Regions from separate parts of the Homo sapiens genome. Here regions 2 and 3 are each linked to region 1. Evidence: fine-mapped expression QTL. A gene starts in region 1. Each other region holds a variant in brackets. All regions are shown on one strand. Distances are between the middles of the regions.

Region 1 (4,340 bases):
CTGGCACAGAGTGAGCTAACAGTTGAACCACCTCTGGGTAACTGCGGACTGCAGCTAGTGTAAGTGCAAGAGAAGGCACCCTGGCCACCAATTCGTTTCACACTCCAATCACCCCCGCCCGCTCTACACCCCCTGGGCACCCGATGCCTCTTCCCTCTGCCAGGCAATTTGCTTCCGTTCTGTTCAACTTTCCGACCTCTGGCTTTAGAGAATAGTCCTGGCTGTGGGAACTGGCTCTGGGAAGCTTTTGGCGCCCTCCTCATTGGTGACTGGCAAGAGTAACACTTTCACACTCTTAAAAAGAGCCGTTTAGTTCCTAATGATATTTTCTGGCAAAAAAGAAAATGAAACACACAACCCGGATTCCGGTCCACCAAACGCAGGCCAAGAGCGCGGCTGCTGAGCCCCGGTCTTGCTGTGAGGCTGTTGTTCCCACTCGCTTCCCGTTTCCACTAGAGTTGATTTGTCTCTTGCCACCTCTCCCCGGCAGTGTGGACCTACTGCAACGCAGGAACATCTGGGTTGGTATGGATAGGATCCTAGCATCAGATGCTGGCTGCTGCCCCAGGGACTTCCCGCGGAAATCACCCAGCACTTAGAAGCCGTTTCAATAAGGAAGTAACCAGTAAAGCATTGCTGGTGGGAGAACCCCGCGAAACATCTTAGAAAAATATCAGAAACCGCTGGAGACCTAATGACCCACGTCTCCTCCAGCCTGTGTTCCTCAGCCCTTTCTGGAGGAGTATTAAGTGGTTTGTGGGTTTTTACCCTGCGGTGGGAGGGCTGTTCCAAGTACATCTATTTCTGCGATAGTTAACGTCGGGGGGCCCCAGCTCTAACCAGGGCGAGGACCACGGACTGCATCCCTCTCTCTCAGCGCACTGGTCTGTTTACTGGAGGGTGAGAGGGACGCGCAGACCTCCGGACTCAGGGGTTCTGTTCTGTAGATCCCCCCACCCCACCCGGGGTCTCTGGCACTCGTATCACTTAGCACCAGTGTGACTGGCGGTGCATTCCGGCCCCCTCGCGCCCCATTAAAGCCCCTGCACATCCTCTCCCACGCTGCGCTTCTGCTACCCACGCAGCTGCTCCTCTGAGCGTCCCGCGTGCACAAACGCGCCCCCGGTCCTTACGCGTCGGTGGCGCTGCCTCGCTGAGGTGGCGCCGGGGGAGCCCGCAGAGGCGGCGGGGGAGGGAGTGCGGAGGAGAGGACCCGTGAGCTGCGGGGACCTGGGCCCGCCGAGCTTTTGGGGAAGCTGGGCTCCGTTCCCCCCGGGCGCCTGGGGCGCGCGGGAAGGCGCGGAGGACGCGCCGCACTCACCCGCTGCTGCTGCCGGCTGCTGACTGCCACCGCGGCGGCGGACGCGGCGCTGTGCCGGAGCTCGGCCGCCTGCCCAGGTCTCAACAGGCTCCGGGTGAACCTGCGGGTCCGCTCACCGGCCATCGCCGGTCACGCCAATCGCGCCGCGGGCCCGGGGCGCGCCTCCCGCCGGTCTTCCCCGCGCCAACCTTCTCTATCCACCCGCCGTTCAGGAAGCGGAACTCGGAGCCTTCCCCCCCCTCTTCCTCGCTCAACTCGCAAGAGGCGGGTTTTTCTCTCTTGCACCCCCACTCTTCCCACCCCCTTCCCTCCTCTGAAGCTTCTCGAAGACTTTCCAAACTCTGCGCTCCCCCGGGCGCGCGCGGCCAACTCGGCTGGCGGCCGGGCCCTGCAGCGGCGCATCTGGAGCGGGCGTCGCGGGACGCGTGTGGGGCGGCTCCTGCCCGCGCCGCCCACACGGGCTCAGCTGGCCGGCCGGGGCTGTCCACGCCGCCCGGGGGAACTGCAGGCTGCGGGGGAGGGCGGGGGGCGGCCGCCGAGGGGCTCCGGGCGGGGCCTGTCCAAGGCCGTCGCCTGTCCAAGGCCGTCAGCCTCATTTGGAGGTTGCTGGGAGAGTTGGAGCCCTGGATGCATTTGCCGTTTAGACTTCTATTTTCTGGGTCCGGCTAGTGGGTGGGGGCCAAGCTCGGTTCGCCCTTCCACCCTCGGGAAGGGGTCAGAGGCTTATTAAAGATCTGGTGGCTGGGATCCCAGCAGCATCGCCCAAGCCAGCGTTTGGAAGGCTCCCTTGCCAGAAGTCCATGTTCAGGGCCTTGGAATAAGCTTCCCCATTCATTCACTCCTTCAATGAGTATTTATTAAGCGCCTACTATATGCCAGCTCACACTGTTCTGGAAACTGAGGATACGGAGAGGAACTTAGCAACTACACTTTAAGGCTGTGTAGAGCTGATAGGTTTTTTCGGGGTAGGGGTGGGAGACAGCAAGTAACCAAGCGAACAAATAAACAAATACAGAGAAATCAAGGAGACAGTTTAAGCTACTAACACGAACTCAAAACCAATAAATCAGCGTTCTGGGGGTAAGAGACTTTGGGTGGCATTAGGATGAGTAGGCAAGAACCAACTGGCAGGGTTACTATGTAGGGTGGTCAGGTCGGGGGTGGATTTCACAGTTATGCTGTCTCTGCTCTTCTCTTGCCCATACCCATCTAGCCTGCACTTTGCCTCTAGATAGGTATCTGATGAAAGCCTTCTAAGAAGTCTCTTCCTGGGTCATACCCAGGGTGGTTCTGCAATTCAGTGTTGGACTGGATGGGGGGCAGAGAAGTTCTGGCCCCTGGATACTGGTCTGGAGAGATCTGGGACAGCCTTTCCAAGTGGTCTGGTTTTTTCTTAACAGCTTTTTATGGATCCATGACCCTGCCACTTTCTAAAGCCAATGATAGATAGTTATAACACAAGGTCACATTTGGGTATAAAGAATTCTTAAGCAATTGATAAATGCACTTTAGTCAGCTCTTTGTTAGCCAGGATTCAATTAGCCAGAGATGCTGTTTGGGGATCATTTCAGCACATTCTAGAAATCATAACAGGCGTAAGAGGGTAAGAGGCTCTGGCAGATTTGGGAAGTGCCATTTGAAACATCATCTAGTTCCAAGACAGCCTGCATAACAAATAACTGTACCTGTATTGTATGCTTTCATATTGGTACTCAGTGTGGGAGCAACACCACCTTTCAGGGTAAGCAAAGTAGGTGGTTGCCTCTGTGTTGGTACATGAAGATCTCTGTAGGAACAGCTCCCTCCAACCGTACCCTTTCCCAGGTGTACCCAGACTTGATGTCTCTGAATGCATATTCCCCTGAGAGAACCGATTAAGCACATTTGAATTAACTTGAGCTTCCCAAGAAGAGGTACCTAATCTTTGTCTCTGGTTTCAAAACACTGCCTGGCACACGTAGGCACTCAATAAATATCAGCTTATGGATGACTTTACAAAGGGCTCAGATGGGCTAGTGCAGTCAGAGAGCTGGGTGTGCCTGACACAGAGAAAGTCAGAGAGGAGAAGAGAAAGGTGTGCTGAAAGGGAAGGCTATAGTAATCGATAATACATCAGAATGTGCCCTGCACAAGGCAACTCGCTGATCCAAAACACTGAGTAGCACACACAACCCAATCTCCAACAATATCGAGTAACAGAAAGTCACTTACAATTTGTTAATCGTACAATTAATACACCTAATTGTACTTTTTCCAGCTTCAGGAGGTCACCCAGAGCACTGGTGTGAGAGGGTTTAACGAACAAATGCCTGTTTGCCCAATCCATACCCTGTATGATGTTAATTCCGTGGGTCACACCGAGTAGGAAGGCAGGTTTAAGTGTTGATAGCATACCTCTCACACCCAGGGCATGTCAATAATGATACTTCAGAGACTCTCCTCCGCCCTTATGATCATGTAGGTTTTAGTTAAGCTTCCTTCGGGCACCAAGGAGAGAGAGCTGAGTGTCGACCCTTGCCCCTGCCCTTGTAGCATAAATACACTTATTTTTTGCTACAGAAATGTAACTTCAGGTCTGCTGATTTGGGACCTTGACTCTGCTGGCCACCCATCTCTCAGATCCCTGGAGAAACTCGGCTCAGATGCTTGGTAAACGCAAATCTGTGCACATATCATGAAGTATGTTAAGTTTCTTGGAACAGCTAGTTAATAAGAGAATCTTCAAGGGCTTGTAATATTGTAGAATAGTGGTTAAAATACATGCTCTGAAGTCCAATTACCTTTGTTCAAATCCCAACTCCGTAAGCCTCAGTTTCTTACCTACGCAATCAAGATAGTAGTTGTGTGGCTGGGCTGCTGAGAGAGTTACTTAAATTAGTGTAAATTTCTTCAAAAGTGACTAGCACATGGACTTCAATAACTGTTATTATCCCTACACTTGCAGATAACTCAGGAATTAAACAAGCTTCCATGTCTTTTCATATATTTGATTCTCATATGAACCCTGTTATTATTCCTA
Region 2 (4,341 bases), 280 kb before region 1:
TCTAGAGAAAGGAAGAAATAAAAGGTGTTGGGATTGTGCAGGGTGAGTTTCAACGCTGTTAAGGCAGAGTGGTCTTAGGTGATTCTCTTTAGAGAAGCTGTATTTAAACTTCTTGTTCTATGAACAGTGTCAGGGGCAAAACGGTGACATGATCAAAGATATTGTGGTTTGTGATGCAAAAATAGAATATTTGGCACCTAACACAAGCACAAAGATCTATTATTTTCAATTACTTCCTTAGAGTTTTTTTGGAAGATTTATTTTCAGATTTGGAGGTAACCCATTGCCAACCGTGTCCTGGGGGCATGGGAGATGGGTGGATTGGCATGGGCAAGAGGACTTGAGCCTACAGGTGGAAGTTAGGTGGGAGATGATATTGGAGGCAGCATCTTCCTGGGTGCCTGGAATAGTAATGTCTAAGGTGGCCTAAAGCTACACATGGGGAAATTAAAAGAAAAGACCTGAGATGCTGACCCAGACAGTCAGGAACCAAGAGAACTGGAGGCAGAATGAAGCTGGGAATAATGCTTTGGGCCAGAGCTCATCAAAGGGCAATCTTTTCTATAAAGAAGTGAGCTCTATTTGAGAAAAGAATAGTTAAATGTGTCTTGAGGCCAGGCGTGGTGGCTCATGCCTGTAATCCCAGCACTTTGGGAGGCTGAGGCAGGCAGATCACGAGGTCAGGAGATCGAGACCATCCTGGCCAACATGGTGAAACCCCGTCTCTACTAAAAATACAAAAATTAGCCAGGCATGGTGGTGCGTGCCAGTAATCCCAGCTACTCGGGAGGCTGAGACAGGAGAATCACTTGAACCCGGGAGGTGGAGGCTGCAGGGAGCCGAGATCGCGCACTGCACTCCAGCCTGGGCAACAGAGTGAGACTCTGTCTCAAAAAAAAAAAAAGTGTCTTGAGGGATCCGAGTTCTCACCCAAAATATCTTTCTATCCCTTCTGTGTACTCAAAATGTAAATACGTATTCCAACCCCTTACCTCCCTCCTCACCATCATGTACTGACATGGCCAATGGCCTTGCATAGCAGAAAGATGAGCTCAGCTGAAGTCTCCTTTTTTATGTCTGGGGCTTTGGAATGGCTGCTGAAGGTGAGTATGAAATTAGATTCTCTAGCTTGCCTTCTGCACCTAGAAGCAGCTCAGTTCGGGTCCATGGCAGCCAGTATTCACTAGGGGAGGGAAGTGGGCCAGAGAGTGGAAAATGTCAGTGGTTCCCAAACGTAGGTCAGCACCTATCGGTCATTGCTCTGATAAGCTCATAACATGGTGGTAGCAAACAATCCTGAATCGTAACACAGCAAAATGGTATTTCTCACTCAAGACTATATGACCAATAGCGTTAGCAGGGAGTGTGTGTGTGTGTGTCTTGCTCATTGTAGTTTCCTGGGTACTGAGGCTGAAACAATATGTCAAAGGTAAGTAAATCAGGGCTTCAGGTACATCAAAGATAAGTACATCAGGGGAAGAGGCTGGGAAGAACTACTTACTGGCTTTGAAGCCTCTGCCTGAAAGTAACACATGTTACTTCTGCCTACATTTCAGTGGTTATAGCAAGTCACATGGTCATGCTTGCCTTCAAAAGAGGCAGGAAACTGCAATCCTACCACAAGATTAGAGCAGAGAAATGGAACATTTGTGATCTCTCTGAGAACCTCCACAGACCTCAAGATTCGGATTCATTAGATTTTCCCCAAGTCATTCTAAGTCTCTCCTACATTTGGAAACCTCTGATCTACCCAGTTCATCTTTGGAGGAACTTCTTAGCTGAGATTTGAGTCCTTTGTTGGTTTCTTGGCAAGGCATCCTAAGTATTGAGTATAGATTTGCATTCAGAAGATATTCAATGAACCATTTTTCTCAGTAACTCACCCACTCTTCAACAGGAAACCAAATGCAAAGTAACTGTGTTTTTTATTTCTATGAACAATAAAATACTTTCATAATTTCACATCCCATTGCTTTTAAGAGCACATATATTACAAATAAAGGAACTCCACAAACTTTAAAGATTAGTATTTATCAACGCTTTTGTACACATACACAAATATTTTAATATAATGGTATCTGAAATGTTATTCATATATTTTTAGTACTGTCATAGTATTAACTAAAAAGGATCTTTTAAATTTGGTAAAAACCGTATATTTTACAATCTTTTATTTACATCTGAAATATGCTTAAATGTTACAAAAACATTCACTTTAACCTTTAAAATATGTGTACTAGGACTGGGGTACTGACCATACAATAACTGACAGCAAACTTAGGGTTTGCATTTGAGCTACACATTCACTGGAATTTCATGGCAAATATTCAACCTGGCTTGATCAACACTGCTCAAAGAAAAAAAAATTATACAAAATGTGCAAATTCAGAGGTTGGCAAAATTCTGAAGCTAGCGAGGTAAACAAAAATATTAACACCATGAAAACTTCA[A/G]ATAAATTAAACCTATCTTTCTCTTCCCCGAGATTAGCTGCAAATTCAGAAAGTTCTCTTAGAGGTGGGTCTGATGCTGCAGAGCCCTCAGACTTCAGCACTAGATGAGATGGAGACCGTGGGTAGGGCCGGAGTTGCTTTGCTAATTACTCGAGTGCAGGTTTGGTCCACTCCGCGCTTTGACAGGTCGTCCCTGCCCGTAATCTTAAAACAGGGAAAAACACAACACAACAGAATGCAGAGGTTAATGTTAATATCCCAAACACAAAATTAAAACCCAGAATAGAGGTTTTCATTCCCCACAGGGTAATTTATTCAAATTATAAAAAGACACATATTAAAGTGGATCTAAAGAATTTTCCCCCAAGACCACGTGCTAGCTTTAACTTTTGGTGAAAGTTAAAATATTTTCACAATCCTCTTCTGCTATCTGACATAAATTTATAAATGTTTGGATGAAACTTACAAATATATCTGAGTAATTCCAGGATTTTATTCTATTCTAAAAGTTTATAATTTATATTGTCAGCATCTGCCAAAAAAGGGAAACATTAGAAATTTTATTTAAATGTTTGCATAAAAGGAAATATAGTAAAAAAGTCTTGACCTGATTTTAATCTTGAAAATAATGTTAGTGTGCCTAAAAAATACTTTATCAGATTGATTCAAACAATGACGTGTAAGCATAATAACAACAGAAACTCCAGACACTTTTAAAATATATTTTTGTACAGAAGAGATTTCTGTACAAAGAATTGTGAAGATTTTCCCACTAACTTCACACATTATCCCACTGTGCCATGACCTTCATCTCTACTCTTCCAAGATAGAATCGCTACTTCTGTAAGTGCCCCAAAGAGCACTCAGCTGAGAGCATCCTATACTACCAATAAATTCTCCTTATGATCAATATCACAAAGCTCTGAATAATCTGGCTGATGATGTGTTCAAAGAGTAGACTCCAGGTGCAGTATACCTATGCTTGGTATCACACCAGATTGGGTCCATTCCTTTCTCTGCATTTTGTATTGGATACCCATCATCACAGTTGACTTCACTATGCTGTTATTCTTACTGAATGTTGAAACAGACTCCAAATGGGCATCTTATACTGATGCTTAAACTGAATGCTTATATGCATTACTTTGGCTTCAAAGAAGGCTTTTATGTTTTTTGCTATTTATTATAAACAGTATGGAATTTTGGCACCTATAAAAGCAATTATTGCCTGCTGGTCAGTGACAACTCAAACTACTTTACCTCAACATCTCCATTTTACACAGTAGCATCCACTTTATCTTGTCTTGTCTCGTTCCTTATACTGAAGGTTCCTTCATTAACTAGATGTCTTCAAAATACTCCTCTAGCTAATACTTTTCTAGACACTTTTGGAGTGAATTGCATATGTAGCTGAAACAGCAGAAGGACGAACATAACTACATTTTTTAGTTTTAATCATGGGGCCTTTACCCATTCCTGAATGTAGGCTGGGATCACTTTGGAGCACTGATATAATCTGAAAAAACAGCAATCATGTAGTTTTTTTTTTAGACGGAATCTCACTTTGTCACCCAGGTTGGAGTGCAGTGGCATGATATCAGCTCACTGCAACCTCCGCCTCCTGGATTCAAGCAACTCTCCTGCCTCAGCCTCCCAAATAGCTGGGATTACAGGCACCTGCCATTACAGCCAGCTAATTTTTGTATTTTTAGTAGAGATGGGACTTCACCATGTTGGCCAGGCTGGTCTCGAACTCCTGACCTCAGGCAATCTGCCCACCTCGGCCTCCCAAAGTGCTAGGATTACAGGTGTGAGCCACTGCACCCGGCCTCATGTAGTTTTTAAAACTAACCCTGGGATTAAAGAAGTATGTAGACAACTTCTATGTTTT
Region 3 (4,000 bases), 230 kb before region 1:
GATGTATTGACAGTAAAAGGATACAGGTCCTTCAGATAAATCCTTGGCATATTGTCCAGGAGCATGCCGTACAGGGGCATGTATAAACTTGCTATCTGGGCCTGCTTTCTCTAGGAGAAAAGGTAGCCAAAAGAAATGATTCATGTAAAAATCAATAGGCTTGTCGGTTTCATATGCATTTAATGCAGTGAGCCATTAAATGGTGTTTAGGGAAGGGAGAAAGGAAGATCACTTACTGGCTCTCTGTATCGATCATCAAATGAATGCTTAGCCATTAGATTTTTTAGGACAGCTAAAGCTAAGTGTCTGACATCTTGGTCTTCCTGCAGGGCAAAGCCAACTTCTCGGAGCAGAATTCCGATTAAGAAGTGTTTGCGACAAAATTCATTTGTGACTGAATATTCAGGCATATCTTTGTGAGGAAGGAAAATAACTCATGTTATTGAAAATCAAATGATCACTTTATAATTGAGACAGATATACCAAACAACTACCATCAACTTCTTCCACCACTAGGAGGGATTCAGGAATACAGTCTTGCTACAGAAATGAGGTGTGTTGTATCCTCAAGGAGCATTCAGTAAGGGGACTATTCTGTGTAGACAAACACAAATACAGGTACAAACTAACACACAACATCAACTTTTGAATTCCATAATAACAGCATATTTACAGGATTACAGGATTTGAGAGGGGGAAAAACACATTTTCTGCTTGGAGGAATCAGGATATGTTATAAGTAGGAATCCATCAAGATGAGTCTTTGAGGATACTTGAAGTTTGGAGGTGCAGATCTTTGTGGGAACAGACAGAGGCAATGGAGAAAGGACAGGAGGCTGGGAGAAGCGATTGGATTTTCGATGGCACAGAATTCTGAAAGCGCAGGTGTGGAAGGGAGCAGGTATGGAGGGGAGCACGAGTATGTGGGAGTCAATAAGCACAGTGGCTAAAAGAGGAATGGTGAGAGAATTAGGCTTGAGAGGCTGGGGCTAGATGATGGAGAACAGTACAATTTCCTTAGCTGCCATCTAGGTCCCTCTCCATTTGTATTTAATTCTGTAAGGAATGTTAACACACCGATAGCTTTGAGATCAGTGCCCTGATAAGGCTCATGCTTTACTGACTTATTAATATGGTGTGGCAGGGTGTAAATGAATTAGACTGTGGGGAGATGTGGGGTGAGGGATACAATACAGGACATTGTAGCAATGGGGGAGGGAGGGGGCAAGTGACAACGTGATATCTGGGCTGGGGTAGCAGAAACTGAGTGACAAGAGTAACTCACTAGGAAAAGTTGACTGAAGTATTTGAGGGAGCAAGGAGAGAGAAATGGCACTGCCAAATTTTGAGCCTGAATTATAGGGAAAAGACACTGCCAAATTTTGAGCCTGAATTATAGAGAAAAGACACTGCCAAATTTTGAGCCTGAATTATAGAGAAAAGGCCCTGCCAAATTTTGAGCCTGAATTACAGAGAAAAGAATGTTAAAAATTTCCAGTAATAATGGATTTATTCAAATTGTCCAAAGGGTTTTTAAAATGTAACCATTAATAGTAGTACTTGCACGTACAAGAAAACATAGGGAGAAAGCTCTTTGACAGTGGCATTCACAATGATTTTATGAATATCACCCCAAAAACACAGTCAATAAAAGCAAAAATAAACAAGTAGGATTATATCAAATTTAAAAGTTTCTGGACAGCAAAGGAAGCAATCAACAAAATGAAAAAGCAAACTACAGATTGGGAGAAAATGCTTGCAAACCATATACCTGACAGGGGGCTGATATCCAAACTCTACAAGGAACTCATACAACATAATAGCAACAAACAAACAAACAAAAACAACCCGCCAAGTTTTAAAAATGGGCAAAGGATCTGAATAGACATTTTTTGAAAGAAGACATACAAATGGCCAAAAGATATAGAAAAAGTGTTCAATATCACGGATCATCAGGGAAATGCAAATCAAAACCACAATGCACTATTACCTCATAGTTTTTAGGATGGCTATTATCAGAAAGTCAAATGAGAACAAGTATTGGTGTAAAGAAAAGGGAATCCTTGTACACTGTTGGTGGAATACGGTCATTATAGGAAACAGTATAGAAGGTCCTCAAAAAAGTAAAAATAGAGCTACCATATGATCTAGCAATCCAACTTCTGGGTATACATCCAAAAGAATTCAGATCATTATGTTGAAGAGATACATTGCAGCATTATTCACAATAGCTAAGCTATGGAAACCTAGGTGACCATCTATAGATGAATGGATTAAAAATGGTATATACATACGATGGAGTATTATTCAGCCT[C/CA]AAAAAAAAAAAAAAAAAAAGAAATCCTACCATTTGTGACAATACAGGTGAACCTAAGAGTCATTATGCTAAGTGAAATAAGCCAAACACAGAAGGACAAATACTGCATGATCTCAGTTAATATGTGGAATCTAAAGAAATCAAACTCTGGTGGACAATAAGAGAATACTTGATAGGTACGATGTACATTATTTGGATGATGGATATCCTAAAAGCCTTAACTTCACCACTATGCAATCTATGCATGTAACAAAATTACACTTGTACCCCTCTAAGTTTCTGCAAAAAAATTAAAGAAGTTAACCTCATAGAAGCACAGAGTAGAAAGATGGCTGCCATGGGCTGGGGAATGGGAGAAATGGGAGGTGGATTTTAGTCAAAGGGTACAAACTTTCAGTTATAAGATGAATAAATTGTGGAGGTCAAATACGTAGCATAGTAAGAATCGTTAATAATACAATATTGTATATTTGAAATCTATTTTTTTCTTTTTTTAAATTTTATTATTATTATACTTTAAGTTTTAGGGTACATGTGCACAATGTGCAGGTTTGTTACATATGTATACATGTGCCATGTTGGTGTGCTGCACCCATTAACTCGTCATTTAGCATTAGGTTTATCTCCTAATGCTATCCCTCCCCCCTCCCCCCACCCCACAACAGTCCCCAGAGTGTGATGTTCCCCTTCCTGTGTCCATGTGTTCTCATTGTTCAATTTCCACCTATGAGTGAGAACATGCAGTGTTTGGTTTTTTGTCCTTGCGATAGTTTGCTGAGAATGATGGTTTCCAGTTTCATCCATGTCCCTACAAAGGACGTGAACTCATCATTTTTTATGGCTGCATTGTATTCCATGGTGTATATGTGCCACATTTTCTTAATCCAGTCTATCATTGTTGGACATTTGGGTTGGCTCCAAGTCTTTGCTATTGTGAATAGTGCCGCAATAAACATACGTGTGCATGTGTCTTTACAGCAGCATGATTTATAATCCTTTGGGTATATACCCAGTAATGGGATGGCTGGGTCAAATGGTATTTCTAGTTCGAGATCCCTGAGGAATCGCCACACTGACTTCCACAATGGTTGAACTAGTTTACACTCCCACCAACAGTGTAAAAGTGTTCCTGTTTCTCCACATCCTCTCCAGCACCTGTTGTTTCCTGACTTTTTAATGATCGCCATTCTAGCTGGTGTGAGATGATATCTCATTGTGGTTTTGATCTGCATTTCTCTGATGGCCAGTGACGATGAGCATTTTTTCGTGTGTTTTTTGGCTGCATAAATGTCTTCTTTTGAGAAGTGTCTGTTCATATGCTTTGCCCACTTTTTGATGGGGTTGTTTGTTTTTTTCTTGTAAATTTGTTTGAGTTCATTGTAGATTCTGGATATTAGCCCTTTGTCAAATGAGTAGGTTGTGAAAATTTTCTCCCATTTTGTAGGTTGCCTGTTGACTCTGATGGTAGTTTCTTTTGCTGTGCAGAAGCTCTTTAGTTTAATTAGATCCCATTTGTCAATTTTGGCTTTTGTTGCCATTGCTTTTGGTGTTTTAGACATGAAGTCCTTGCCCATGCCTATGTCCTGAATGGTAATGCCTAGGTTTTCTTCTAGGGTTTTTATGGTTTCAGGTCTAACATGTAAGTCTTTAATCCATCTTGAATTGATTTTTGTATAAGGTGTAAGG

What was found.
Region 2: its variant is fine-mapped to the expression of DOCK10 in whole blood (TOPMed, PIP above 0.99).
Region 3: its variant is fine-mapped to the expression of DOCK10 in whole blood (INTERVAL, PIP above 0.99).

Annotation. Positions count from the first base shown.
Region 1 is chr2:225,040,931-225,045,270 of GRCh38, forward strand. It overlaps DOCK10 (dedicator of cytokinesis 10), which reads right to left and starts at 1,538. Exons shown (of 56, transcript NM_014689.3): 1 at 1,322-1,538. The coding sequence starts at 1,444. RefSeq lists an enhancer at 245-584 and silencers at 1,135-1,374, 1,565-1,934.
Region 2 is chr2:224,763,184-224,767,524 of GRCh38, forward strand. DOCK10 (dedicator of cytokinesis 10) reads right to left here. Exons shown (of 56, transcript NM_014689.3): 56 at 1,907-2,654. The coding sequence ends at 2,538. Among named protein-coding and RNA genes, the nearest start is that of CCDC195, 49 kb to the left of the region's middle. The variant A/G (reference allele first, on the strand shown) is at 2,451.
Region 3 is chr2:224,807,675-224,811,674 of GRCh38, forward strand. DOCK10 (dedicator of cytokinesis 10) reads right to left here. Exons shown (of 56, transcript NM_014689.3): 32 at 237-412; 33 at 1-110. Among named protein-coding and RNA genes, the nearest start is that of CCDC195, 93 kb to the left of the region's middle. The variant C/CA (reference allele first, on the strand shown) is at 2,315.